Regions from separate parts of the Homo sapiens genome. Here region 1 is linked to region 2. Evidence: fine-mapped expression QTL. A gene starts in region 2. The other region holds a variant in brackets. All regions are shown on one strand. Distances are between the middles of the regions. Region 1 has its middle 9.8 kb from the start of GNPDA1. Region 2 holds the start of NDFIP1 (Nedd4 family interacting protein 1).

Region 1 (15,246 bases), 85 kb after region 2:
CCCTGGGTCCTTCCCTTTCTCTCCTAACCCCTCATTCTGTAAATTCTATGAATTCTCACTATATCCCCAGTGCCTGGCCCACAGTAAGCCCTCAACAGATTCACTGAATGAATTAATGAATAAATGAATGGAAGTTATCAACATCTCCATTTCTACAGATAGGAAAACTGAGCCTCAAACAGACTCATAACTAAGCTTATGCACATGCTATTAACAAGTGGTAGAAGGCCAGGCATAGTGGCTCACGTCTGTAATCCCAGCACTTTGGGAGGCTGAGGAGTACCGATCACCTGAGGTTGGGAGTTCGAGACCAGCCTGGCTAACATGCAGAAACCCCGTCTCTACTAAAAATACAAAATTAGCTGGACGTGGTGGTGCATGCCTGTAATCCCAGCTACTCGGGAGGCTGAGGCAGGAGAATCACTTGAACCCAGGAGGCAGAGGTTATGGTGAGCCGAGATCGCACCATTGCACTCCAGCCTGGGCAACGAGAGCAAAACTCCGTATCAAAAAAATAATAATAATAATAATAATAATAATACAAAAATCTTAAAGCCACTGAACTGTACATTTAAAATGAATTAAATGGTAAATTTGATGTTATGTATATTTTACACACACACAACATTCACACTCTAGGAGCCACCCTGGCACTCAGAAACACCAAATGTTGCCCATGGCATCTCTCCTAGCCCTGAGGAACACAATAAGGACTCAATGAATGCTGACGTTTTTAACTCATTTTTAGGCTGTGCTGGAGAGAAGCCTTCTCCTGGAGGCAGTACGGTCGAATGGCTAGGAGTACAGACACCGGAGTTCAAACCCCAGGTCAGCCACTTATCAGCTTGGTGACTTTGGGTGACTTATAAACCTGTCTATGCAAGTTTTCTCATCAGTAAAATTGGAAAAACAATGCCTACCTCAGGGGGTTGTTCTAAGGACTAAGTGAAATGATAATGTGTGAAAAGCACTTGGAACCATCCCTAAGACACAGTAAGTGTTCAGTAAGTATCAGCAGCTGGCACAAGGGTGATTATACACTACAGTGAGTTCTGCTGCTCCCAACCCCTCCATTTTCACCAATGTTTACCATACTACCTCTCTGTAATACATTTCGTGCTGCAGATAACTGTTTTTGGCAGGAAAGGAGTTATTACCTTCAAAGCAAGCTGACTCCCCAAAGAGGAGACTTTTTGTGATGAAATTCCAAGGAAGCTCCAGAGACTCCCTCCTTGGTGTTTCTGTCCATCAGCAGTAGGGAGCTCTCAGGAAATGAATTTCTCTTTTTTTTTTTTATTGAGACGGAGTCTTGCTCTGTCACCCAGGCTGGAGTGCAGTGGTGCGATCTCGGCTCACTGCAACCTCCGCCTCCCAGGTTCAAGCGATTCTCCTGCCTCAGCCTCCCAAGTAGCTGGGACTACAGGTGCACACCACCACGCCTGGCTAATTTTTGTATTTTTAGTTGAAACGGGGTTTCACCATGTTGGCCAGGATGGTCTCGATCTCCTGACCTCATAGTCCTCCCACCTCGGCTTCCCAAAGTGCTGGGATTACAGGCGTGAGCCACAGTGCCCGGCCTAGGAAATGAATTCTATACAGAATAATCAGATGGTTCCTGTGCCCTTTGGCTGCTTGTGCAGTTAAGCACATTTATCATGAGCTCTTCTTCTCAGTCATTCGCTATGTGGGATGAAGCTGTTCCCCTCTGGGATTAGGACTTCCCCCATTTCCACCCAGGCTGTTTCTTGTGCTCCGTGATATGGAAGAGACTTGGAGACGTGGGAAGTGTCCCACACAGCTGATCAGCCAGGCGCGGAGGTCCACCCACCTGCAGAAGGGTCACCAGGCTCAGAAACATCCTGTCCACACCTGCAAATCTATCCATGCCTCCTGTTCATGCCCAGCCCATACATTCGATTTTTAAAAATTCATTGTTTTCAAAATAATTAAAAGTCTCTTGCTCACTCTGACAAAATAAGCTGCCATGTTGTGAGATGTTCTGCGGAGAGGCCTACGTGGCAAGGACCAAGGGAAGCCTCCAGCTGACAGCTCATGAGCAACTGAATCCTACCAATAAGCATGTGAGTGAGCCAGTGTTCCGCAAAGGGGCTGGATATGCAGAGCGACCCCCAAATGCCAGAGCCAAGAAATCAAAGGAGGCTGACAAATCCAGCTTGTTGGTAGAGGATTATTTGTTAAGGTAACTTAGAAGTGTGGTCTTGCATGGCCACAAGACAGGTAGATGTGTTACTCCCCACACCCAAGGATTATATACTATGGGGAAATAGTAAATATGCTCTGGCAAGACAGTTAAAAGCAGCCCTCCAGAACAGTCAAGAAGGCTGTGTGTGTCCTAGCCTATAAAGTGTGCAATAACATCAAGGTTGCTTTTTTCTTACACTAGGGATAACAAATAAAGTAGAAACCAGGAGACAAAATTAGCCAGGTGTGGTGGTGCGTGCCTGTAATCCCAGCTACTTGGGAGGCTGAGGCAGGAGAATCGCTTGAACCCAGGAGGTGGAGGTTGCAGTGAGCCGAGAGAGTGCCACTGCACTCTAGCCTGGGCAACAAGAGCAAAACTCCATCTCAAAAAAAAAAAAAAAAAAAAAAAAGACCTAGATAGGGGCCAGGTGTGGCAGCTCAATCCTGTAATCCCAGTACTTCGGGAGGCTGAGGCCAGAAGACTGAGAGACTGAGGCAGGAAGATTGCTTGAAACCAGGAGATCAGCCTGGGCAACGAAGCAAGATCCTGTCTCCACAAAAAAAAAAAAAAAAAAAAAAAATTTAAGGAAACAAAAAAAGACCCAGCTAAGCTGCACCTAGATTCCTGACCTCCAGCAACTTTAAGATAATGTTGTTGTTTTAAGGCACTACATTTTAGAGTAATTTGTCATGCAGTGAAGAATGACTAATATAGGTTGAGGGTCAGTTTTATATGTTAACTTGTCTAGGATACAGTCCTCAGTCAATCAAATAGCAATTTAGTTGTTGCTGTGAAGGTTATTTTGTAGATATGATTAAAGTCCATAGTCAGTTAACTTCAGGAAATAGAGGCCAAGCGTAGTGGCTCACACCTGTAATCCCAGCACTTTGGGAGGCCAAGGCAGGTGGATCGCTGGAGTCCAGGAGTTCGACACCAGCCTGGGTAACATGGTGAAACTCTGTCTCTAGAAAAAATACAAAAAATTAGCCGGGCGTGGTGGCACATGCCTGTGGTCCCAGCTACTTGGGAGGCTGAGGTGGGAGGACTGCTTGAACCCAGGAGGCGGAGGTTGCAGCGAGCCAAGATCACAACACTGCACCCCAGCCTGGGCGACAGAGTGAGACTCTGTCTCAAAAAAAGAGAAGAAAGAAGAAAGGAAAAAGAAGAAAGAAGGAAGGAAGGAAGGAGAAATAAGAGATTGTCCAAAATAATCTGGGTGGGCCCGATTCAATCAGTTGAAAGGCCTTAGAAGAGAGGAGTTGAGGGTTTCCAGAAGAAGAAATTGGACAACAGTTTCAGTTCATGCCCAAGAGTTCCTGCATGCCTTCCTCACAGCCTGACATATGGATTTCAGAACTCCCTCGCCAACTCCCACAACAGTATCAGCCAATTCCTTGCAATAAATGTCTCTCTCTCTCTCTCTCTATATATATATATAAAATATATAATTAAAATTGTTTAATATACATAATGCGCCTGGCGCGTTGGCTCACGCCTGTAATCCCAGCACTTTGGGAGGCCGAGACGGGCGGATCACAAGGTCAGGAGATCGAGACCATCCTGGCTAACACCGTGAAACCCCGTCTCTACTAAAAATACAAAAAAAAATTAGCCGGGCGCGGTGGCGGGCGCCTGTAGTTCCAGCTACTCGGGAGGCTGAAGCAGGAGAATGGCGTGAACCCGGGAGGCGGAACTTGCAGTGAGCCGAGATCGCGCCACTGCACTCCAGCCTGGGCGATAGAGAGAGACTCTGTATATATATATATATATGTATATATATATACACACACATATATATGTATATATATACACACATATATGTATATATATGTGTATATGTATATATACATATATATGTATATGTGTATATATACATATATATGTATATGTGTATATACATATACATGTATATGTATATACATATATGTATATATATACATATAGACTATATATAATATGTATATATTATATATTATATATCATATATCATATATTATATATGATATATATTATATACAATATATCATATATATGATATGATATATATTGTTATTATATATGTGTATATATAGACATAATGCATCACAGAGAATAAAGAAATGAAAACAGTATCAAAGGATATGCCATAAAAAGGAAGACTCCCTCCGCTTGCTGCCTTTTAGTTCCCTTCCCCCAAAGAGATCTCTGCGACCTGTTTCTTTAGCATCCTTCTAGAAATTGTCTATGCGCGCAGGAACATATATTTATTCTTACCTCCTTACCCTCATGCATGTTTTAGCACACATGTTATACGGAGTTCTGTATCTTGCTTTTAAAAATTTATTTAACTATTGTGGTAGTCTTCCTATCAGCTCATGGAACTGGCTCCTTTTTAGTAGCTGCATTGTATTCCATTTTACAAGTGTGCAAAACTATTCAATCAGTCCCTGATTGACGGATATTTAGGTTGTTCTAATATTTTTCTTTAACAAGCCGGGATGCCATGGATGCCCTTCCAGAAAGACAAAGGACTTAGATTTCTTTCTGTCGGATATGGGGCTTTCCCTCCCTTCCCGTCTCACTTTCCCCATAGAGTTGGCTGTGTATGTGGGGCACATCCTGTATTTTGTCTACTTGACTTTGTCAAGACTCCTTGAATGTCCTGTGTTCAGCTTTTTTCAATACATTCAAAAATCATCAGAGCTACTTTTCCTCGACAGTAACTGGCACCTAAATTAAATCACCTAAATGGCAACACTAGCTGAAAAGCGTATCTCCATAAAGATTTGGACAATACCTTCTTGGTTTCATGCAGGTTCGGCTGAGGGAAGAACAGAAGGGAAGACTGAGAATTAAGGGTACTTATTTTTTTATTCGGGAAAGGAAAACACTGTTCTTTGCAGAAGCCCAAAGTCATGAACAGGAGCCACCGTTAATTAGAGATAACTTCTAATCATACACACGTTCTGAAAATCAGCCAGTCGGCGACAGCATCGCTGCAGTAACTGCACTCCTAAAAGTAAGCGGATCCACTACAGCCCGAAAGGCAGCGCATCAGGGCCGGCCCCTCGGTCCCCTCCGCTGCTCGACAGCAGCCAATGAGCAAGTGTCTCGCTCTAGCGCCGGCGCTCCCGGAAGTCGGAGGCGAAAGGCAGCCTCCGCCTGTGATTTGCTAACACAGCTGAAAGGCCTTAGATTCCTAAATACTTAGGCTTCAGAAGCGCCACCAGACCCTGCATGACCCGCTTCCCTAAACCTTACACTAAATCAGCCCTGGGGGTTGGGAGACTTTCCCATAGAGGTACGGTTCTCTCTTGCAAGCAAACCGGAAGTTCACTTTTTTTTTCTTTTGGCATCAGATGTCAGGTTCAATGTAACGCAACTCTTTTAACAGTTGGACCTTGTTTATGGTTTGTTATGAGTTTGGACTTACGAGTGACAGATGTACTGAAGCGGCTGAGCTTAGCAAAGTCAGTCTTCCATTTTTGCAGTAGTTTATATGATCTGTTTTTTATTTGCGTATATTTGAACCACTGATTGTCAAAAAGCAAGTGTAAATTTTGTGATGAAATTTCTGACCAGTGGACATTTATTAAACAAGGAAAAGTCCTTTTGAAGCTCTTTGTGCAGTAATTGTTCATTTAGTATAAAAATGATAGAAAGTTAGATGGAAACTAGCATATATGAATGGCTAAACATAAAAGAGATGTAAGATTTTCTCAACCAGTACTAAGAAAAGTGATACACCAACAAAGTTTTTTGATTAAGAGAAACTCAGATTAAGACAAAAATAGTTGTAATAGAAGTTGTAATGGCCTTCCACACTATATCATTATCAGTCTTTCTGCTCAAATAACTATTTGAACATACTACTGACAAAGTATTTTCTGGTTCCAAAATTGCAAGCAAAATTTCAAATGCTAGGATAAAATCGACTGCCCTAATAAAAAATATAATAGCTTCATTTATTATTACAGAGATTATCAAATATCTAAATGCCTCATCTTTTTGTGGCATAGCCACAATACAAGTATCACAATACAGGTACAACTTTTCCTGCGCGCACTAGTTTTCTCATAAAAACACTTGCAACAAGGCAATTGCAGGTAGAATCCCTTCCAGGTGAGACTTCAGAAACAATAGCAAATATTTGCAGAGCCTCTTGAGTTGGCAGTTAATGAAAACGTTTTTACTGCTTTCGTTGGAAATAATACAAATAGAACTTTTGTTGGATGTATGCTTACAAGTACACTATTTATTTGAGTTGAAGCAAAGCCTCAATGATCCTATGGAAGGTATTGGCAGTCCTGCTCGTGTTCTCATAATGCTGCGTAAATAGCATTGGATGGATCTCTTCTATTGAAACTGAAGTAATTATCATGAAATTGTTCTCTTACTTTAGTATTTATAGGGTTCTAACTGAACATTTTAAGGATTTTTATGATTTTGGCATTCGGAATTATTCATTTCTCTTGCATTCAAAAATCCATTGGATCTCTTTAACAAACATAGTTGAGAGAATCTTCCATTTATTTCAAGCACTGAAATTATACTTTAATTATGAAGAAAAGGCCCCCAAAATTCTTGACTTTTAAAATAATCCATTGAATGGTGCCTAGTTATTTCTCATTCATAGTTTTCAGTGTCAATTCTGCTATAGGATTCTGCAAATTGAAAGAGCAAATAGTGTTATGGAAGTACTACTCCATTGCTAAATGTATTTGTTGAATGTGTTGAAGGAGAATTGATGAAAAATGCATCCCTTGAATTATCAAAACTATTGTTAAAAGGGACATTACATATGAACAGGAAAATACATTTTAGCTCAGAGTGGACAATTATTACAACACTTGTTATGACCATCTTTCAAGATGGATTTCATCCCTTGAAAAATTCAGTTTTTTACATGGATGTTACTAAATACTTTTCCAGTGTGGGTACAAGTGGAATCACCATGTGTGGTGTGATGAAAAAGAAAGAATAAAATCTATACTACATTATATTACATGTGTTTTTTAATTTATTACATGAGTTTTTATTCCTTCTTTTCATTACACTACATTATATGTTATGCATACAGGTACAATGATTATTCAAAGTTGAAGCAAAACCTAAATGATTACATTACGTGAAAAATTTCATGATAATTACTTCAGTCTCAATAGAAAACATCCAGTGCTATTTAAGCAGCATTATGAGAACATGGGCAGGACAGCCAATATCTTTCATAGGATCATTCAGGCTTTGCTTCAACTTTGGATAAACATTGTACCTGTTTGCATACATCCATCAAAAGTTCTATTGTAATCTACATGTAGTGTAATGAAAAGAAGGAATAAAAACTGATGACAGTGCTCCTTCTTGTCAGTGGACAACATTTTAAAGAGTCATTGATCAAAAGATGCAATGTGATCCTGAAGAACGGAAAAGCAAGTTATGCATGAAAGATGACACATGTGCTTCAGCCAATCAAATTTGAAGAGTAATTCTCAGAGTTGGTAACTTTATGCCTATGTATGTTCAATACACTGGCTTGTAAAGCTAATGTCAAGCATGATTTCTCATTAATGAATGTTCAGTGGCCAAAAGAACAAAATAAATTGGATGCAACCACTGCAGAAGTCATGATAAAATGTAAATGGAACACAGACTAATAGTAAGGAATTTTATACATAAATTCTGCAAAATGAAGAACTATTAGGGAGCACAAAATCTCCAGGGAAATATAATTAAAGAGGTATGTAATTTAGATATTTACAATTTATTTCAGATAAGCAATGAATATGTTACTAAAAGTAATTTACTAAAAGTATAAGTCAGTGCATGCAATATTTTTCTATCTCAGTGTACATATGCACAGGCAATTATAAATAATTCAGATTTCACTGATGTTCTGTACTTTTATTTGTTAAATCTACTCCCTCAGCCTCCGTGCCACTGTGCCTTTGTTTGTGCCTGCCTATAATGCCTTCCTCCTCCTCTTAAATGATCAAATCCTGGCTCTTTTGAGCCCATCTCAAAACCCTAGTAATAATGGTAATGGTCCCTTAGTGAGGGCTAACTCTGTGCCGGGCACTGTTCTAAGGGCTTTATATTTGTCAAATCATTTGCTCCTCCCTGAGATTCTTCTTTTTTTTTTTTTTTTTTTTTTTTTTTTTGAGATGGAGTCTCGCTCTGTCGCCCAGTCTGGAGTGCAGTGGCGCAATCTCGGCTCACTGCAAGCTGTATTTCCTGGGTTCACACCATTCTGCCTCAGCCTCCCGAGTAGCTGGGACCACAGGCGCCCATCACCACGCCTGGCTAATTTTTTGTATTTTTAGTAGAGACGGGGTTTCACCATGTTAGCTAGGATGGTCTCAATCTCCTGCCCTCATGATCTGCCTGCCTCGGCCTCCCAAAGTGCTGGGATTACAGGCAAGATTATTATTCTTGAGAATAATACTACATACAATGTGGCAGCTATTATTTGCCTTAGACGCATTACATCATTTACCCTTCGTGAGGCAACTGCTCTTGATAATAATAGTACATACTGTAAGGTAGATCTTATTTTTCCTATTTTATGGGTGAAGCCATTAGGGAACAAAGACATGTCATAACTTACACAGAAGTTACACAGCCCAAAAGTGGTAGAGCTGGGATTCGAAGCCAGATAGTGTGGCCATGGAGTCCATTTCTGAACCCTGACTTGCATGTACCCTGCTCTGCCCTGTGAGACTCTTCAAGCTATGACCCGCTTTCTCATTTAATGTTGGAGCCACACAATTTATTATATAGTTTTTTTCTTGTGATGGAGTCTAAAATTACTAAATTTGTTCTCATTTCTCCCTTTAAAAGGAATCTGCCATAGACAAGAGGTGGAATCAACTCAAACATCCATCAACAGATGAATGGATAATCAAAATGTGGTAGGAAGAGGCATAACTACCGTGATGATAAAAAGCTCAGTGAGGCCAGTTGCGGTGGCTCATGCCTATAATCCCAGCACTTTGGGAGGCTGAGGCCGGTGGATCAGTTGAACTCAGGAGTTCAAGACCAGCCTGGGCAACATGGCAGAACTCCATCTCCACAG[A/G]AAAAAAAAAAAAAAAAAGCTGGGCATGGTGGTGTGTGACTGTAAGCCCAGCATTTTGAGAGCCCAGGGCAGCAGGATTGCTTGAGCCCAGGAGTTTGAGACTAACCTGAGCAACATAGTGAGACCCCATCTCTACAAAAAAATTTAAAAATTAGCTAGGTATGTTGGCTTATGCCTGTAGTCCCAGTTACTCAGGAGTCTGAGGTGGGAGGATTGTTTAAGCCTGGGCAGTGGAGGCTGCAGTGAGCTGTGATCACACCACTGCAGTCCAGCCTGGGCAAGAGAGCAAGACCCTGTCTCAAAAATAAATAAATAAATGAATAAAAAGTTTAATGATTGCCAAGGGGTTCAGAGAGTTAAATAGGTCCTAAATCATAGTGTCATATAGAATAGTTTCACTGTCCTAAAAAAATCCCCTATATTTTCGGGGATTTTTGACACTATGCATGTCTCAAAACCCATAGAATTTTATAGCACAAAGAGTATACCAATTTTTAAAAAATCATTTAGGAGAAGGATCCCAGGACAGAATGTAGAATGTGACAAAACAATATAACTGCATTAAAATGTATTAAACAACCTCACTGAAAGTTATAGAGGGGGAAAGATGCTGACAAGTAACTTTGGAAATTAGTGGAACCTGTCAGATGAAAGGCAAAAGAAGCTGTACATAAGCACTGTGCTCTATTTGATAAAGTTGTTTCACACGGGAGTGAGGGTTACAATCCTGGTACTGCTATACATGTGTACTGAAATCAATTAAGTAAATGGATGGCAGATAGTAGGGGAAAATGTGGTATATGCATACAATGGAATATTATTCAGCCTTGAAAAAGAAGGAAATCTTGTCACATGCTACAACATGGATGAATCTTGAGGACATTATGTTAAGTCAAAAAATTGTTTAATGGCTACAAAGTTTCAGTTTTTCAAAATGAAAAAGTTCTGGAGATTGGTCACACAACAATGTGAATATATTTAATACTACCAAACTATAGACTTAGAAATGGTTAAGATGGTAAGCTTAATGGTGTGTGTGTGTGTGTGTGTGTGTGTGTGTGTGTGTGTTTTACCAAATTAAAAAGAAAAAGAAAGGCCAGGCATGGTGGCTCATGCCTGTAATCCCAGCACTTTGGAAGGCCGAGGCAGGCAGATCATGAGGTCAAGAGATCGAGACCATATTGGCCAACATGGTGAAACGCAATCTCTACTAAAAATACAAAAATTAGCTGGGCATGGTGGCGCACACCTGTAGTCCCAGCTACTTGGGAGGCTGAGGCAGGAGAATCGCTTGAACCTGGGAGGCGGAGGCTGCAATGAGCCAAGATCACGCCACTGCACTCCAGCCTGGCAACAGAGCAAGACTCTGTCTCAAAAAAAAAAAAAAAAAAAAAGAAAGAAAGAAAGAAAAAGAAAAAAGAAATTATTCCTTTGCCTTCTAGGCTTCTCCCCTCTCTTCTGCCCTCTAAGAAGCCAGTTTTTGGTGGTTTCACATCTGGGCTTTTGAGATGAGAGAGAAGAAGGGAGAAACAACTGAGAAGCCAAAAGGACTGACAGAAGTTTACTACAAGGAAGAGAAGAACAGAGCTAAATTGAAAGGAAAGCAAGGTAGAACCCCACTTTGGCTGGTCATGTGGGTGTGCTGTTGGGGCAAAGAGATTTTTTAGTTAGAATTAAGAATTAGTATCCCAGCACTTTGGGAGGCTGAGGCGGGCGGATCACGAGGTCAGGAGATCGAGACCATCCTGGCTAACACGGTGAAACCCCATCTCTACTAAAAATACAAAAAATTAGCCAGGCCTGGTGGCGGGCACCTGTAGTCCCAGCTACTCGGGAGGCTGAGGCAGGAGAATGGCGTGAACCCGGGAGGCAGAGCTTGCAGTGAGCCAAGATTGCGCCACTGCACTCCAGCCTGGGCGACAGAGCGAGACTCCGTCTCAAAAAAAAAAGAATTAGTGGTTGGCTGGGCGCAGTGGCTCATGCCTGTAATCCCAGCACTTTGGGAGGCTGAGGCAGGCAGATCCCTTGAGGTCAGGAGTTCAAGACCAGCCTGGCCAACATGGCAAAACCCCGTCTCTACTAAAAATACAAAAATTAGCTGGGTGTGGTGGCATGTGCCTGTAGTCCCAGCTACTTGGGAGGCTGAGGCAGGAGAATCGCTTGAACCTGGGAGGTGGAGGTTGTAGTGAGCTGAGATAGTGCCACTGCACTCCAGCCTGGGTGACAGACTGTGTAGAGCAGTTCCAAATGCTCTACACGTGTCAATTCATTTCATCCTCACAACTATCCTATGAGTGGCCATTATGATTATCCCCATTTTACAATTGAGGGAGCTGAACTACAGGAAGGTTAAGAAAAGTGTCCCAGCTAATTAGTGATTGATCCAGAATCTGAATCCAATGGGCTTCAGAGCCAGTGTTCTGAGCCACTTGGGGCTTTGGCTTTTATGTGCAAGGTACCACTGAGCTACAGGGAGTATGGGAAATGCAGGGAGTAGTGACATATGGCTATCATTATAGGAGGTAAGACAGGGCCTCAGAAAATGAAAAGGTGGAAAACAGCAAGTAGCAGAAAGAAAGGCTCAGCAAAAGCCTTGGCAGGGGATTCCACAAACATGTGGAAGGGGGCAGGATGTTGGAGTATAGGGGTGGGGAGTGGGGAGTCTCTGATGGGTCAGACATTGCACCTCCAGACACAAGGGACTGGCTACAAAGGTTGAATCTCTTGTTTGCCACCCTCCCCATTTGTGGATTTTTTTTCTGAGCGTATTAGATATATTGCTGCATAACAAATCATTCTCAATTTAGCAGCTTAAAACCACAAGTGTTTATTATCTCACAGCTTCTGTGGGTCAAGAAATCAAGAATGACTTAGTTGAGTGGTTGTGGTTGTGGTTGTGGTTAAGGGTCTCTCATGAGATTTCAGTGAGGCTACTGGCCAGGGTTGCAGTCATTTGCAGTCTTGACTGGGACTGGAGGATCTGCTTCCAAGATGGCTCCCATGGCTGTTGTCTTGTTTCCTCGCCACCTGGGCTTTTCCATAAGGCTGCTCCAGTGTGGAAATGGAGCAGCTGACATCACTGAGAAGGTGATCCCAGAGAGAAAACAAAGAAGAAGCTGCAATGGCTTTTATGACCTAACCCTAGAAGACACACCCATCATTTCTGCACTATCCTGTTGGGTTACACAGGTCACCCCATCCACTGTGGAATGGGACTACATAAGCGTGTGAATCACTAGGAGCCGTCTTGGAGGCTGGCTGTCACACCGAGTTACTAAAATTCATAAAAATGTAATTCCTAGAGCCTGGAGGTCCACAAGGGTATGGACTTTGCTTTGTTCATTGTTGTGTCCCCAGAACCTAAAATAGTGCTGGGCACATGGTAAAGGCTCAATAAATATTTTATAAATGAATGAAAAAGAAGACTGCAGGGCAGGTGGCAATTTACTTGGCTTGGATGGAAGCATAAGATTCATTAAGTTTTCAAGGTTTTGTTGTTGTTTTTCCTTCAAGACAAAATCATTCATTTCATACAAATATTAGGCAGAATGTATCCAACCCGCAGCACCCACTTTGAAAAAATATGATGAGTCAATGAGACGATGCTTTAAAAACTTTTAGCACAGTGACCAGCACAGAGTAGATGGTCAATTACTTTGATCAAATCTTTTTATTAAATTTTTTTTTTTTTTTTTTTTTTTTTTGCCAAATGGGGCAGGGGGTTTTGTTTGAGACAGAGTCTTGCTCTGTCACCCAGGCTGCAGTGCAGTGGTGCGATCTCAGCTTACTGCAACCTTCACCTCCCAGGTTCAAGCGATTCTCACGCGTCAGCCTCCTGAGTAGCTAGGATTACAGGCACGTGCCACCACACCCGGGTAATTTTTGTATTTTTAGTGGAGACAGGGTTTTACCATGTTGGCCAGGCTGGTCTTAAACTCCTGGGTTCAAGTGATCTGCCCGCCTCTGCCTCCCAAAGTGTTGGGATTACAGGTGTGACCCACCACTCCTGGCCAGATCACATCTTAATAACAAGTTAGTGTGTGTCTGTGGCAGATTGTATTTTTTAAACATGGCCATACTTGTACATGTATCCCGTCCAACATGCTCTTCTTATAATATTACTGAACTTCTTACACAGAGAGATGGGGGTCTATGTTTTCTCTTTTTAAATCTGGATAGGGGCTTGTGATTTCTCCAACCCACAGAGCTCAGCAGAAGTGATGCTATATGACTTCTGAGACTAGGTCAGAAGAAGGATACAGCCTTAGCCCATCTTTGTCTCTTGATACGCTTGCCCTTGGAACCCACCGCTATGTTGTGAGGAAGCCCAGGCAACAAGGAGAGCCATGTGTGAGTGTTCCACTGACAGTGAGCACCTGTTGTCAAGACATGTGAGTCAATGAGCTTTCATACGATTCCAGCCCCAGAATTTGAGTCTTTCAGTTGAGGGGCAAGATATCATCGCCACTGTATCCTGTCTGAATTTCTAGCCCACAGAAACTGTGAGAAATAAGTCATTATTGTTGTTTTAAGCCACTAAGTTTTGGGGTAATCTGTTACACAGCAATAGATAACTAATAAAATATCCTTCCAGAATTTCCTCTAACTAGCTTCAGGGGAAAATGATATTTAATTATGTATTCACTCATTCACTCACTCAACCACGAAACCCAAAAGGGTATATTTGGCTTCAGACATGCTATTCTAGGGGGCTCAAATGATGTCATCAGAGTTCTGTGTCTCTCTTCTATTTGTTGTACCTTTCTGTAGCTCTAAGCTTTCCTCTGTTTTACGGCTCAAGATCTCAGGAGAAGTGTATTTTCCCCCAGTAGTGGCATAAACCCTAAGGAAGATCTGAATCACCTGCTCTAGCAGTGAGTCATGTTTTCAATTTCAAGTCACAGGAAATTCTCCTAACAATGATTTAAAGTTTAAGCCATAAGGACATTTACCATTTACTTAGAAGAAGTCCAGAAGTAGGAGGTCCCAGCACTAGTCAGATATCAAGGACATAAGTGTTTTCCCTCCTCCACTCTATCCTTATGCTTGGTGCCTCACAGTTACAACGTGGCCTCCCCAGCTTCAGTCATCACAACTGCCTTCAAGGCAGGAAGGAAAGGGAAGGAACCAGAAACCGCCAGTTTGTTTCTCAAGCACAGCACTTTTCTCAGGAAGTAAAATATCTAACCAGAAGCCATCCTCCTCCCTCATTGGGCAGAATGAAGTTACTTGGCCACCCCGTAGCTGTGGGAGAAGCTGTGAGAGTCGTTGACTTTCCAGTTTCTCCAGTGGGAAGCAGCAAGGGAGAAGGAGTCTCTGAATGGCTGCTGGGTTAGTGTCTTCCATGCCTGCCTGGCCTTGAACTAATCATGGCCAGAGCCATGGAGTCTCTAATTGGTTTGCTCCTAAGTCAAAGGGTAGGGCCAGCACCACACAAACTCTATGAATTGAGCAGAATTTGGGAGGTAACATCTGGTCAGGTTGTTTGCCCAAAGCAAGGGTGCATTAGAAGGTATAAAAATATCTGACCATACAAGAGTTGCAGAGTGTTCCATTGCATGGATAAACTCACAATTCTTTTAATTTGGCAACTTTAGTTCCAAGACAAGAGGATGGGAGGATAGGTGTGGGTAATAGTTTAAACACAGATGTGGAGTAGGAGGAGTACAGGGAGTCAGGAGGTTAGGGCTAGAGAGCATTTCAGTATGGTTAGAGAGTGGGCTGTAAGGAGGGTTAGGAGGAAATAAGGGGTAAGTAATAACAGCTGGCTGTGAATGCCATGCTATGCTAATATTTCATTTAATAGTCACAACAGCCACACGAGGGCAGTATTACTTAATTTCCACTCAATTCTTATGTTTCAGGTAAGAAAACTGAGACCTGGAGAAGTTGAGTCATTTGCTTGAATTACTCACTAAATAACCAGAAATTAGCCAGACCAGAATTGAAATGCAGGTCTTTCCGATTAGTCCCCACGCTGATCCAAGAGCCT
Region 2 (15,575 bases):
TCTGACATAAAATGGTATAGTATTTACACATAACCTACCTCATGTACTTTAAATCATCTTTACTTATAACACTTAATACAATGTAAATGCTATGTAAAATAGCTGTTATAGTGTATATTTTACTTGCACTATTATTTATTATTGTATGGTTATTTTCCCCTATTTTCAATCTGCAGTTGGTTGAATCTGCGAATGTAGAACCTGTGGATACCCAGAGCCTACTCTAACTCATACCCCCACCTAGCCAACCACTAGAAGCAATTACCACTGGAAAGTATGTCAAGCCCAAAAAATTTCATACATGATGTTTGCCAGTTGCCTAGCTTATTGGCAACAATGACTTGAAAAAAAGATAAACCATCATGCCAATTTTCAGTATGAATGGAACAGAAGTATTAAAGTTGCTTTATCTAAATTGTCCATTATTATAAGAATATAGGCCGGGCGCAGTGGCTCACACCTGTAATCCCAGCACTTTGGGAGACCGAGGCGGGCAGATCACTTGAGGTCAGGAGTTCAAGACCAGCCTGGCCAACATGGTGAAACCCCATCTCTACGAAAAATACAAAAAATTAGCTGGGCGTGGTGGTGGGCACCTGTAATCCCAGCTACTCAGGAGGCTGAGGCAGGAGAATCGCTTGAACCTGGGAGGCGGAGGTTGCAGTGAGCCGAGATCGCGCCATTGCCTTCCAGCCTGAGCAAGAAGAAAGACACTCCATCTCAAAACAAACAAACAAAAAAGAATATAATTCTTCTAAGCTGTTGTACTTGCTTAAAGGTAAAACAAGAACATTTTAAGAAACCAAAATAATTATTTTAAAGCCCTAAAAACAAATAAATCTGAGGATGTCACTTGAATCTCTTGGAGACTTTTTTTCTTTCTTAATAAAAATATGAAGTTATTCTCATGGTAGGATTTACTTTATAATCTACCATAAAATTATGAAATATAATTAATGTCTAGGATAAAACAATTTGAAGTTATGTGCAGTTAAACTACTGGTGGCATCAGCTTAGAGCAAAATTCCCTAGAGCAGTTCAACTGGGCCTTGGTTTCTGCCCAAACCAGGAAGCACTGCCCTATTTTCAGGACACAGATAGTATGATTAAGCCAAATAAATCTTGCCTAACAAGTGGTCACCCATGGGATCAGGTAAGAAAACAAGGATAGATTAACAGGAATCTATCACTGCTACAAAAACAAAGCATGAGGCTTGGCAAGAGTGAGCCCAATCAATACAAAGGACAGTTAGTTATGGATCCACAGCCCGACACTGACAAATCCTGTTTCCATACTCCTCACAGATTACAAGAGAGCTCTCATGATATATTCCTCATGTGATATCTTCTTGAAATATCATACCATTTGTTTTCTTTTAGCGTTACACATAGAAATATTTATCAATATATGATTTCTAGGATTCGTTTCAAAATAATGTGGTGAGTATAAGTGAAATAATATTGGCCATTCATTCACAATTGCTGAAGCTGGGTGATGGTACATAAAATTTCTTACACTACTTTATTATTGTATGTGTTTGAAATTTCCATAGTAAAAAGTTGAAAATGTAAACATCATGAAGAAATTACTCCTACAACTCGACAACAAAAAACTCAATTCAAAAATGAACAAAGAACATGAATACACATTTTCTCTAAAGAAAATATCAATGGCCAATAAGCACATGAAAAGATGCTCAACATCGCTAATTATTAGGGAAATAGGGATCAATACTGCAATGAGATACCACTTCACACCCATTAGATGGCTACTATCAAAAAAACAAAAACAAAAAAGAGAACATAACAAGTATGTTGAGGATATGGAGAAATTGGAATCCTTATGCATTGTTGGTGGGAAAATAAAATGGTGAAGCTGCCATGGAAAACAGTATGGGAGTTTCTCGAAAACTTAAAAATAGAATTGCCGTATGACCCAGCAATTCCATTTCTGGGTATATCCAAAAGAACTGAAAGCAGGGACTTGAAAGATATTTGTAGACTCATGTTTTTTATAGCAGCATTACTCACAATGACCAAAAGGTAGAAGCAAACCAAGCATCCGTCAACAAATGAATGCATAAACAAAATGTGGTACATATATAAAATGGACTATTATTCAGCCTTAAAGAGGCAGGAAATTCTGACACATGCTACAACATGGATGAACTCTGAAGACATTATGCTAAGTGACATATGCCAGTCACAAAAGGACAAATCCTGTCTAATTCCACTTATGAGAGGTACCTACGGTAGTCAAATACATAGAAAGTAGAATGGTGGCTTCCAGGGGCTGGAGGAGGGGGAATGGAGAGTTATTGTTTAATGGATATGGAGTTTCAGTTCTGCAAGGTGACAAAGTTCTGGAGATGGACTGGTTCCACAACAATGTGAATGTACTTAATGCCACTAAACTGTATACTTAAAAGTGGTTAACATGGTAAATTTTATGTGTATTTTACCACAATTAAAGTTTTCAAAGGAATAATTTACCCATCTTCCTAATATTTTTATAAATTTTCTTTGATCACTGACCATGTAGGCCACAAATACAGCATATAACTTAAGAAACTTTGACATTTAGGTTATGTTGGCATTCTGTGATATAACTTCTTTTGAAACTGAAAAATAAGCAAAAAAGCCACATAAGCACTATTCATTCCTTCCTCCAGGATCATTACTTCATCTAATAATTTAACATGAATATGGTTTGACCTATCAGAGATGAAATTCTTATGCTCATCAAAATATTCCTCCATAATCCTGAGAGAATTTATCCAAAAGTATACCATTCCAAAATCTGCACTATAATGTCATCAAACTATCATACAGAGTATTGGTGATGCTCACAAGTGGGCAACTTCTTTAGCAGGTAATGAGGCAAGTCCAGAACTAAACATTCTGTAATCTGTTTGAACCTACATGGCAGTGTCATCATCACCCACTTACATTGAATTCAAATCCAAGTATCCCAAAATACTTGAAATGAATTGGCAAAATTCATGCACACATCTACCGCAGAAGATCTGCGTTCATCTATGGATGAACGGGAGTTAACGTCCTCAGAGAGAGAAACACGCAACAGGTTTCTCAGCACTCAGTATGGGCCTACTTAGGTCTTTCTAAAATAGTGCTTCCATACTGTCTGAGACAGTCTCAGTTTCAAAAGGCAAAAATGAAAAAAAAAATAAAATAATGCCAGGGGAACCTATAAGCCTAGCCTCTTTTTTTTTTTTTTGGACAGAGTCTCACTTCGTCGCCCAGCCTGGAGTGCAGTGGCGCGATCTCGGCTCACTGCAATCTTCACCTCCCGGGTTTCTCCTGCCTCAGCCTCCCGAGTAGCTGGGACTACTACAGGCACGTGCCACCACGCCCAACTAATTTTTTGTATTTTTAGTAGAGATGGGGTTTCACCATGTTAGCCAGGATGGTCTCGATCTCCTGACCTTGTGATCCGCCCACCTCGGTGCCTTTTTTTTTTTTTTTTTTTAAGACAGTCTTGCTCACCCAACCTGGAGTACAGTGGCGCGATCCCAGCCTACTGCAAACTCTGCCTCCTGGGTTCAAGTGATTTTCCTGCCTCAGCCTCCCAAGTAGCTGGAGTTACAGATGTGCACCACCACACCGTGCTTTTTTTTTTAAACAGAGTCTTGCTCTGTCGCCAGGCAGGAGTGCAGTGGCACGATCTCAGTTCACTGAAACATCTGCCTCCCAGGTTCAAGCGATTCTCCTGCCTCAGCCTCCTGAGTAGCTGGGACTACAGGTGCACGCCACCACGCCCAGCTAATTTTTGTATTTTTAATAGAGATGGGGTTTCACATGTTGGCCAGGATGGTCTCAATCTCTTGACCTCGTGATCTTTGTGATCTGCCTGCCTTGGCCTCCCAAAGTGCTGGGATTACAGGCATGAGCCACCTTGCCTGGCCATTTTTTGTTTTGTTTTGTTTTGGTTTTTTTTGAGACAGTCCCACTCTGTCACCCAGGCTGGGGTTCAGTGGCACAATCTTGGCTCACTGCAACTTCTGCCTCCCAGGTTCAAGCAATTCTCCTGCCTCAGCCTCCCAAGTAGCTGGGATTACAGGTGAGTGCCACCACACCTGGCTAATTTTTGTATTTTTAGTAGAGGCAAGGTTTTGCCATGTTGGCCAGGCTGGTCTCGAACTCCTGACCTCAAGTGATCCGCCCACCTCGGCCTCCCAAAGTGCTGTGATTACAGGTGTGAGCCACCACACCTGGTTGAGCCTACCCTTTCTGCATAGTCTGTCACTATGCTAAATTCAAGTTGTCCACATATTACACTACCAATAAAAAGACCATAAAGACAAAACTGTGTTTGCATTTATGAATGAATCATACAGTTTTCCATTACATTTACTTGGTGAGAAAACTAGCTCAATTTGATTAACCAGATCAAATAGAAGTCAGAACAGCCCTGTGTGACAACCAAAGAGTATCATGCTCCTATCAAGTTGCCTGGACAATTCACCATCATTCTATAATTCAAAAGCCTTTTAAAAATGCATATTCGCTGACCAGGCATTTCCATGGCTAGTAATTTATGCTAAGGAAACGGTTGAAGACGTATGTGAAATAAATTTCAATGAAAAAAACTGTAAACATTCTTAGTGACCAAAGATAAGCAATTAGTTAAATTATGATTCAGCCATACAATTACATGCCATGCAGACATTAAAAATATTTTATATAGAAGACATTAATAACATTGTGTGAAGAACATTACAAAATAGAATTATGAACCTATTTCATTATTTATCTAGCATGCCTTTGTAGATACATGTGCATGATACACATGTGCAAATGTATGAATGCACATGTCTGAGAACAAGATACACATGGACACGTGCAAAAGTATGTGCAAGTATGATCGGGGCTCATAAAACTGCACACAAATGTACAAAGATATGTCTGTATACGTATATATGGGTACATAAGAGAATACATATGCATGTGTATATATCTGCTAATGCATACACCTATATCTGGACTGTGAGCCTGTGTTTTAAGTAGGTGAGTGTGTGTATATCCTTATAATCACTACTTAGCAGCCTGTGACCTTGAGGCAAGTTACTGAGCCACTTTGAGTCTTTGACAATGAGAACAAACCCTGGTTCATAAGGGTTTGGTATGAATTAAAAGAAAAAAAAAATGGATGTAAATTACTTAATACTGTGATTGTTGCATAAAAAAATCAATATTAGCTTTCCTGCATTCCTTATCTGTACACACATATACTGATCTATAACTATGTATATTTACATAGCTATAAACCCACAAGAATGCACATTAAAATATTACCTTTGGTTATCTATTTGGTTTTTGTTTAGGGAGGGTTTTGCAGTTTTTTGGGCTTTCATCTTTTACAATTTTTCTAGGAAGATTTTTTTCTCTTTTTTTTATACTTCAATTCTGCATAATTAAAAAATATTAAATGCCACACTAAGGAATACATGATTTTGATACTCCAGCAAATTTTTTATATTCTAGCAGTATGTCAGCATTACCTAATAGCTCAAGAAGATGGCAGTACAAAGAAAAACCACAGCTCTTTTGCTCGTTAGCCTTATCCAAGTCAGGATGAAAAGGATGAAATCAGATGACAGTATACAGTAGGGGTGATTTGCAAACACTGTGGTGACAGTTAAGTGGCATCTGTTATTCCCATTTTATTAAAGCAGTAAGGAACCCGCAGGCTGCCCAAGGTCATAGAAAAAAAGCATGTGCTAGATCCATGTGCTCTGAAGAGATCTAAGGATTAACTGCATTGCCACAATTTGGGCCGTGTTTATAAAACCAAGAAGTGAAATTCTTAACTAGTCATTTTGGGAGTCCAAGCCTGAGTGGGGACGGATTGCAACACATGGCTGATGATAGCAAAACAAACCAGTAACCGGCCGGCCGCACCAGGGTTAATCTACGTTTTCATCGTACTGGCTGGCTTTCCTTACTTCTAAAATATAAAATTGTAGATCGTCTAAGATAGGACATTTTATTTGATAAAAGGAGGATTGACATCTGTATGCACCGAAAGCATCTGAAACATGACAAACACAAGCCGTTATTTGCGGTTCCAATCAACATCAGTTTACCACCTGGCTCAATTCCCACCATTACTGTATGTTAGATTAACACTTCCAAAAACCCTGCAGAAGGTCTCTAAATTTCCTGGGGGAACTTAGCTACAGACGCGGAGTGAAACAAGCAGCTCTTTTCCCTGGGGCCTCAATGTATTAAATCAAACCCGAGAAAATGATCCAATCATTTCCTATACATTTCCTCCCCAGCTATGCCATCAAATCTCTTAAAACGTCACTTCCAAGCATTTAAAATACACCCGGCACACGCCCTGCAGACTTCATCGTAGCTCTCCCTTTTGGGGCATCACCACAGCCAAACATCGCCTCTTCCAAATCTACTGCAAACTGCGGGCTTGTCTCTTGCTTCATTTTTTACTTTTGTCTTAAAACGGAGGCGAGGGGGATGGGTTTCGACAAACTAGGCTCTGAAACCCTGAGCAATAGCATCTTGCTGTGGGGAGCTATCGGCAGCAGCAGAGATTTTAATCTTTTCTCTCCACCCAGTTTCCGTTTCATGCTTTTTTCTTTCTTTCTTTTCCAATGACATCAAACCAAAGGTGGAAAAATGAAAAACGAATGCCTCAGATCGATGCCGCCTGTGGGTCGCGGGTTCTGACTCAGGGACCCGCCCGCCCTGGGAAATGCGGGAAACGAGGCCGGGAGGAGGACTTTCCACCGCCGGAGTCCCACCTGGGGTCGCAGACGGGCAGGCCGGGCCCGTGGCAGCCTCGAATCCGAGCCCGGGGCCCGACCCGCCCCTCCAGGCCCAGCGCGGCCTGCCAAGCCCCGGCGTCGAGTTGGCCGCGGGCCGGCCAGAGAGGCCTGAGGCGGCCAGCGGGCAGGGCAGAGCCAGGGACCGGAGTTCGGGGCTGGAGTCGGGCGCCGCTTACCTGCTGGTACCGGCTGCCGCAGGCCGGCTCGACCGCCGCCAGCGCCGCCAACGCCAACGCCATGGCGCAGCCGGCAGCAGGGAAGCAGAGCGAGCGAGCGAGCTAGCTGAAGGGGCGCGGCCGCTGCGGCTTGGGAGCGCTGGGAGGCCGAGGGGGACGCGCCTTGGGTGGGTCTCGATGGCCGCCGCCGCTCCCGGGCGAGACGCTCTTCTCAGGCTGTAAGCACCGCCGCCGCCGCCGAGGCTCCGACGCGGCCCCTGGGGAAGAGGCGGGGACTACGACGACGGCGCTGCGCCGCCGCCCCACCCCCGACTCGCGCCGCCCTGCCCGGCCCGGCCCGGCCTAGCCTAGTCCTGCGCCGCCGCCCCGAGGTGCACCGGCCCTGGTGTAGTTGCTCCGACGACCTGAGCCTCCGAGGCTCAAGTGTTGTATTCGATTCCACTAAAAACGAATTACTAACAGGCCAGCCCAAAGCAAGGGCGATGCTGCTGATGAGCACCTCGTGCCAAGCACTGAGCTTCACCTACGTGCCCTCATCCAGCCTTCAGCACAACCGCCCTGACGCAGGGACCACAACCCCATTCTCGAGGTCGTTGGCAACCAGAGAGGTTGACAATCTTCACAGCAGCGACCTGATCCCTCGTGTCTGGCAGCAGAATCGTGGTTCTTATTCACTCCCTTCTTTTATCTGCCGTACTCATAAACCAGGGGTCAGCCAGCGACAGGGAGGGGGCCAAATCCGGTCTGCCACCATGACTGTGAAAAGTACATGAAATTCAAGTTTCAGTGTCCATAAATAAAGTTTTATTGGAACACAGCAGCACCCATTTGTTTGGTATGGCCTGCAAACCCTATAATACTTGCTATCTGACATTTTACAGAAAAAGTTTGCTAACCCTAAATCCTTGAGAACTGCTTGGATCTCAAATCCTACTTAGGGTGGATGATTATAATAGCATCCTCATGTTTATGCCATCCTTTAGTATTTTAACAGCCTCATCTGCGGAATCGGAAACAATATTTTCCAAAAAAGCTCCCTGACTCGGTGACATGAAGTCAAAACTTGAAGGGTTTGGCCATGCTAAAGGCTTTCCCGACCACAGGAACAGGTGCAAAGGGCGGTCCAGAGAGAGATTGTCTTGTGGAAGAACAGAAAGGAGGCTGGCATAGCTGCCATATAGGAGATACAATTATCAGTGTTTCACAGATGAGGAAGTTATGCCCAAAGAAATTAAATATCTCACCCAATGACACAGAGCTACTAAGGGGTGAAGCTGGAATACAACTCCATTAAGCCAGCTTTCTTACCCAGTATTGCACAACTAAATTATAAGCTTTGTGAAGACAAGAGTATTTGTCTTTTAAATCTTATTACCTCCCAATGCCATGTAGCACAGTATAGCTATATAGCAGGCTTGCAAGGTCTGTTTCTTTCACACCCAGCCATCTGCAATTGCTTCTACCCACATGTCCTACAGAGAAAAACAAAATCTTCCATCTCTGAAGCTTGTTGCAATTCCCATTTCTTCTTCATTGCCTTTCCAAGTTGGCAGTGTAGAGGTTATATTAATATGATTATTGTCTTAGCTTCTAATTTTGAAGTTTAGTTAATTATGTATTTTAAAAGAGAACTGTGTTTAGAACACACCCTGAGGTTTCTGTATATATGAGAAAATTGTAATCAATAAAAACTCTAGATGTTTACCATCTTCACTTTGAGTTCTCTCTCAGCATCCAAACTCCTCTATATCTGTCGCTATTTCCAAGTATTAGTCTCACATATTAACATGCTGGGAGAGCGAACAAATGTAGCAACATTCCAAGCTCTCAAGTCTATTTAGAGCCTCCTTACTCTGTCCCTCAGTTGTTGTTTATAATCCAGAAAAACAACATTTAAATGTAATCAGGTACAGTGAATCAAACATAATGTCCTGCCATGTAGTCTTGTATAAAGGGTGCAAAAATCTAATTTGAAATTTTTTAAAATGTCAGCAGTGGAAAGTAGAAATCCAGACTTCTTTGTCCAGATTGTCTACATTTACGTGTAAGAAAGAATAAAAAAGAATGTCCACTGGGCACAGTGGCTCACATCTGTAATCTCAGCACTTTGAGAGCCTGAGACTCGAGGATCACGTGAGCCCAGGAGCCAGGAGTTCGAGACCAACCTGGGCAACATAGTGAGACACAATCTCTGAAAAAAAAAAAGAAAAAGAAAAAAGAATTTGTCGGCCTACCACATAAGGCTATTGGAGCAACAACTGCAATCTTTATGCATGTCTGCAGTGCTGTGGCTTTTGTGGAAAAGATGTTGCTACCCTTCTATTTCTTTCCTAAATTACTTTCTCCCTCAATATCTATATACTCCCTGCATGTGGACACAAATATTTATCATAATATAAATAACAGGCTTTATCATAGAAATATTTTGCATTGAAAGTAAAAGAAAATTGATCTCCAACTTCTAATCTCCTTTTCCTATGTCCTCAACCAAAATGTTTTGTAGTCACGGTAAAGATTTTGGTCTTTTTTTTCTTGAGTTCCCCAAAGCCTCTAATAAGTAAATTGAGATTATTTGCCTTGATTTGATGGGTGGATAAATTGGAGAATTGAGAAATTGAGTCACTGCTATATTAGGCCTCCAGCTGGCAGGCAAATTGTACAACGAAGGGGAAAACTGAATTTCTGGCTCACAGATCCATGCCTGGTGCAAGCCAAGCAGACAGAGAAGATAATCCAAAGCCATAAAAATTGTGCTCTTTGGCTTCATCTCGAGATGTTGTCAAGAGAGTTTCCACAGAGAAAGTTATTAATTTCAGATTGCTGCACTTAGAAACTTATTTCCCCACAGAATAACAGTAATACTTTCCATGTGCAGTACTGCATATGTGAATTGCTGACTCTGAATCATCCCTCCTGAGAGAGAAAAGAAACATGGACAAGTATAAGCATAACTCATGTCCGTATCCCTTTCCCCCTGCAATATAGATACAAATCTCTAGGATAAATGTGACCTTCTGTCTTTCATATCCACATGAGGCTTGACCTAGGTAGTGCAGAGCTCAGTAAGTAACCAAGAAGGGTTTGTTAAATGTGTTAAATTTAGACAAAAGCCTCATTAGTCTAATATCTCATTTGAGGCCTTGAACTTCTCCAGCTAGTCTTCACAGGGCTCCAATTAAACCATGAAGTTTTATTTCTATGACTTACTACTTCTTTTAATTCTCACTACATTACCACAAGGTTCATTAAGAGCAAAAGGTAATATCTTCATATTACAAATAAAGAAATTATCCACTGATAATTACTACTGTTATGGAGCACTTCCAGAATCTTGGACCTGATGGTACATCATCTGCTTAATCTTCATAACAAACCCATTCTGCAGATTCTTGAAGAGACTCAGGAAATTTACATAACCTACTCAGCTTTGTGAGCGGTGGAGTCGAAACGCAAACTGGGATTTGTCTGGCTCCAAAATGTATGCACTGCTTTGGGTGTGGAGAGAAATACGGGACATAAATAGACAGGAGATAGAAAGTTCTAACCTTTGGAGTCTTCATGATGAAATAGAGATGATAGTAAACACTTATTTGAGACATTTTTAAAATATAAAACTTACAAGTTATTTACAACTGTGTTGAGCTATATTAACTAATGCTGAGAGATAGTGAAGAGAATTATGTGGCCAGCTGGGATAATCAGGTAAGGATTGGGAAGAAAGGGTTTTGAACGAGAAAAGGGCTTTGTTGGCCAGGTGTGGTGGCTCACGCCTGTAATCCCAGCACTTTGGGAGGCCGAGGCGGGAGGATCACCTGAGGTTGGGAGTTGGAGACCAGCCTGACCATCATGGAGAAACCCCATCTCTACTAAAAATACAAAAAACTTAGCCGGGCGTGGTGGTACATGCCTGTAATCCCAGCTACTTGGGAGGCTAAGGCAGGAGAATCACTTGAACCTGAGAGGCGGAGGTTGCAGTGAGCCGAGATCGCGCCATTGCACTCCAGCCTGGGCAACAAGAGTGAAACTTCATCTAAAAAAAAAAAACAGAAAGAAATAAAAGGGCTTTGCTGTCATGGGAAGAGAGAAAGTTGTCAACCTGAAATAACAACAGAGAGATTCTCCAAAGACAGTGAGTTTATTTGTGAATCCTCAAGATTGCAATCTGGGATATGTATGCACCTCATGAAGGGCCATGGATGTACCCAGAGAGGGAAAGGAAGGCAAAGGTTTTAAAGGCAAAATGAGCAAGGTTACATAAGTTGTTTTGAAACTATTAACCTTGGCTACAAGGATCAATAACAAGGGTGGTATCACTCCAAGGCTGAACAGACAGTTCCTAGGCAGACGTCTTTGTGTAAAGTTGTGGTGGCCTTGTTCAAGGTTGTGGTTTTCAGAAAGTGTAACCTAAAAATAGATTTTAACGTAGACATGTGTGCATGAGAGCCCCTCCTTTATGGCCTCCCGACTCCTATTTGTCGGGGTATAGAATAAGTGACTCCATTTTGATTCTTACAACTTTCACAAACTCATGAGTATAATTGTACAAAAGCTTAGAACTTAGTTTAGAACAAAATCTTAGAACTTAGCAAACTTTTAATGTTAAGGAATAGATAGAAATATTTTAGGCTTTGTGAACCATAAGCTCTGTTGCAGCTACTCCACTTTGCCATTGTATTGTGAACACAGCCATAAACAATGCCAAAGTGGCAAGACTGTGTTCCAATAAAGTCTTATTTATGATCATTGAAATGTGAATTACGTATGATTTATTTTTTTATTTTTTTTATTTTTGAGATGGAGTCTCACTCTATCGCCCAGGCTGGATGGAGTGCAGTGGCATGTTCTTGGCTTACCACAAACTTCGCCTCCTGGGTTCAAGAGATTCTCCTGCCTTAGCCTCCCGAGTAGCTGGGATTACAGGCACCTGCCACCACGCCCAGCTAATTTTTGTATTTTTAGTAGAGACAGGGTTTCGCTATGTTGGCCAGGCTGGTCTCAAACTCCTGACCTAAAGCAATCCACCCGCCTCAGCCTCCCAAGGAGCTGGGATTACAGGCGTGAGCCACCGTGCCCAGCCTCAACATATGATTTTTATGTGTCATGAAATAGTATTCTTCTTTTGATTTTTTTTTCCAATTAGTTAAAAATGTAAAAACTGGGCTGGGCACGGTGGCTCACGCCTGTAATCCCAGCACTTTGGGAGGCGGAGGTGGGCAGATCACAAGGTCAAGAGATCGAGACCATCCTGGCCAACATGGTGAAACCCCGTCTTTACTAAAAATACAAAAATTAGCTGGGTGTGGTGGCACAAGCCTATAGTCCCAGCTACTCAGAGGCTGAGGCAGGAGAATCGCTTGAACCCGGGAGGCAGAGGTTGTAGTGAGCTGAGATCATGCCACTGCACTTCAGCCTGCCCGACAGAGTGAGACTCTGTTTAAATAAAAAAAAAAAAAAAAAAAAGTAAAAACTGGCCAGGCACAGTGGCTTATGCCCGTAATCCCAGTACTTTGTGAAGCCGAGGCCAGAGGATCACTTGAGGCCAGGAGATTGAGACCAGCCTGGGAAATATAGCAAAACTCTATCTTTCCAAAAATAAATAAATAAATAAATAAGCCATTAGCCAAACATGGTAGCAAACGCTTGTGGTCCCAGCTACTCAGGAGGTTGAGGCAGTAGGATCACTTGAACATAGGAGTTTGAGGCTGCAGTGAGCTGTGATCACGTCACTGCACACCAGCTCTACACAATAGAATTAAAAAAAAAAACAAAAGTAAAAACTCTTCTCAACTCTCAGGTCAAACAAAGACAGGCAGTAGGCTGGACTTGGCTCCTGAGCAGTAGTTTGCCAACCCCTAGTTTAGTAGCAAGACAAAAGAAGTTATTTGCTATGAGATTAAATAGAGAGTTTAAGCCAGAGACTAATGCAGAACACCTACTGGAAAAGGAAAGGAAAGAGAGAGGAAGATAAGAATTTATGAAAGATCCTAAAATATAAACAGGTAAGTGGCTTTTATGAAACAGTGAGTCAGAGGCCAGATGCTTTGGCTCACACCTGTAATCCCAACACTTTGGGAGGCCAAGGCGGATGGATCACCTGAGGCCAGGAGTTCCAGACCAGCCTGGCCAACATGACGAAACCCTGTCTCTACTAAAAATACAAAAATTAACTGGGTGTGGTGGCCCAAGCCTGCAATCCCAGCTACTTGGGAGGCTGAGGCAGGAGAATTGCTTGAACCTGGGAGGCAGAGTTTGCAGCGAGCCCAGATCACGCCACTGCACTCTAGCCTGGGGGATAGAGCAAGACTCCGTCTCAAAAAAAAAAGAAAAGAAAAGGTGAGTCAGAGGAAAGGGGTTCGTCAAATAAGAATCCAACATGGGACTCCTGATTCCTTGGTTTACCTTCCTGACACTGGAATTCCACAGATTCATTTATTCAGCAAATATTAATTTAGCACCACTATAGATAAACACTGTGACTTTATGCCTAGAACCTGAAACTATTTAAAAAATGGTCTCTCATTTATTCTACAAAATGAAATTAAGAAATGCTGAAAGTGGTTATTTATGTATTCTAGCTACATATGCGTAAGCTTCAGTATGTTGTGTCTTTCTTTTTTTGTGTGAGGCAGAGTCTCACTCTGTCACCCAGGCTGCTGGAGTGCAGTGGCACCATCTTGGCTCACTGCAACCTCCGCCTCCTGGGTTCAAGTGATTTTCCTGTCTCAGCCTCCCGAATAGCTGGGATTACAGGCATGTGCCGTCACGCCTGGCTAGTTTTTGTATTTTTAGTAGAGACAGGGTTTCATCATGTTGGTCAGGCTGGTATCAAACTCCTGGCCTCAAACGCCTTGGCCTCCCAAAGTACTGGGATTACAGGCATGAGCCACTGTGCCCAGCCATGTATGTTGTGTCTTTAACTAATTTCATCTCAAAATATTTTCTTTTTTTTCTTTTTTCTTTCTTTTTTTTTTTTGAGAGGGAGTCTCGCTCTGTCACCCAGGCTGGAGTGCAGTGGTGCAGTAATGGCTCACAGTAACCTCTGCCTCCCGGGTTCAAGTGATTCTCCCCCCTCAGCCTCCTGAGTATCTGGGATTACAGGTGTGCACCACCACGCCCAGCTAATTGGTCTTGAACTCCTGACCTCAAGTTATCCACCCACCTCCCCCTCCCAAAGTGCTGGGATTACAGGCATGAGCCACCATGCCCGGCCTCAAAGTATTTTCTAATTTCTCTTGTGATTTCTTCTTTCACCCATTGGTTATTTAAGACTGTGGTTTGATTTCCATATATCTGCAAATCCCCCAAATTTCTGTTATTTATTTCTAATTTTATCCCATTGTATTTGGAGAACATACTTTGCATCATTTCAATCCTTTTAAATTTATTGACGTTTGTTTTATGGCCTAGATTATCAAATCTACCCTGGAGAATGTTCCATGCACGCTAGAGAAGAATATATATTCTGCTGTTGTTGGGTGGAGTGTTTGTTAGGGAAGTTTAAACTTTCCCTCTGAGGGTTCAATAACTGAGTCTGTTGAAATAAATGGACAAAAGATTAACAGGAGAAGAGGCTATTAACTTGCAAGCCAATGGGAGTCACACCAAGTATGAAACTCAAAGAAGGACCTGACAGATGGAGTTTAAATACCCTCTTCACAGGGGAGATGAAGGCAATTTTAGAGGAAGAGTTATCACTCTTCATATGGTTAGGCTTTGCGTCCCCACCCAAATCTCATCTTGAATTCTAATCCCCATGTGTCAAGGGAGAGACCAAGTGGAGGTAATTGATTCTTGGGGGCAGTTTCCTCCAGGCTGTTCTCATGATGGTGAGTGAGATCTCGTGAGATCTGATGGTTTTATAAGGGGCTCTTCCCCCTTTGCTCAGCACTTCTCCTTCCTGCTGCCTTGTGGGGAAGCATTGCCTTGCTTCCCCTTTGCCTTCTGCCATGATTGTAAGTTTCCTGAGGACTTCCCAACCATGCTGAATTGTGTGTCAATTAAGCCTCTTTCTTTTACAAATTACCCAGTCATGGGCAGTTCTTTACAGCCATGTGAAAATGGACTAATACAAAGAATAAGTAATTTTTAGGGGAGATGAATGGGCCCAAAGAAAAGACAATAGCCTGGGACAAAGGTCCTCTGAGCTCTGGGGAAGGTGGTGACAAGTTATGGGAAGGTGAGGGGACAGAACTGCAATGCAAATATTGTCTTAGTATGCAAATAAGGTCTCTCAGGCAATATGATAAGTTTGCTTGGGTGGGTGTAGTGACAACCTTTTGTTTCTTCTTCCTGATTTATCTTCCCTAGGCAATGAGATTTATTTATTTATTTATTTTTATTTTTATTTTTTTGAGATGCAGTTTCAGTCTGTCACCCATGCTGGAGTACAGTGGGATGATCTCGGCTCACTGCAACTTCCGCCTCCCGAGTTCAAGCCATTCTCATGCCTTAGGCTCCCGAGTAGCTGGGATTATAGACGCCCAACACCATGCCTGGTGAATTTTTGTATTATTAGTAGAGATGGCGTTTTGCCCTGTTGGCCAGGCTGGTCTTGAACTCCTGACCTCAAGTGATCCGCCCACCTCAGCCT

The links. PIP is the estimated chance that this variant, and not a neighbour inherited with it, causes the effect. A credible set is the group of variants that fine-mapping cannot tell apart.
Region 1: its variant is the best candidate, but not a certain one, in a credible set for the expression of NDFIP1 in whole blood (INTERVAL, PIP 0.63).

What each region holds. Positions count from the first base shown.
Region 1 is chr5:142,015,158-142,030,403 of GRCh38, reverse strand. No RefSeq gene overlaps it. Among named protein-coding and RNA genes, the nearest start is that of GNPDA1, 9.8 kb to the right of the region's middle. RefSeq lists a silencer at 12,016-12,075 and an enhancer at 12,226-12,285. The variant A/G (reference allele first, on the strand shown) is at 9,255.
Region 2 is chr5:142,100,448-142,116,022 of GRCh38, reverse strand. NDFIP1 (Nedd4 family interacting protein 1) reads right to left here and starts at 7,244. Exons shown (of 8, transcript NM_030571.4): 1 at 6,986-7,244. The coding sequence starts at 7,048. It overlaps LOC105378204 (a long non-coding RNA gene), which reads left to right and starts at 12,836. Exons shown (of 3, transcript XR_944368.3): 1 at 12,836-12,984. RefSeq lists silencers at 6,815-6,884, 6,955-7,084, 7,145-7,414, 14,632-14,832 and an enhancer at 6,992-7,493.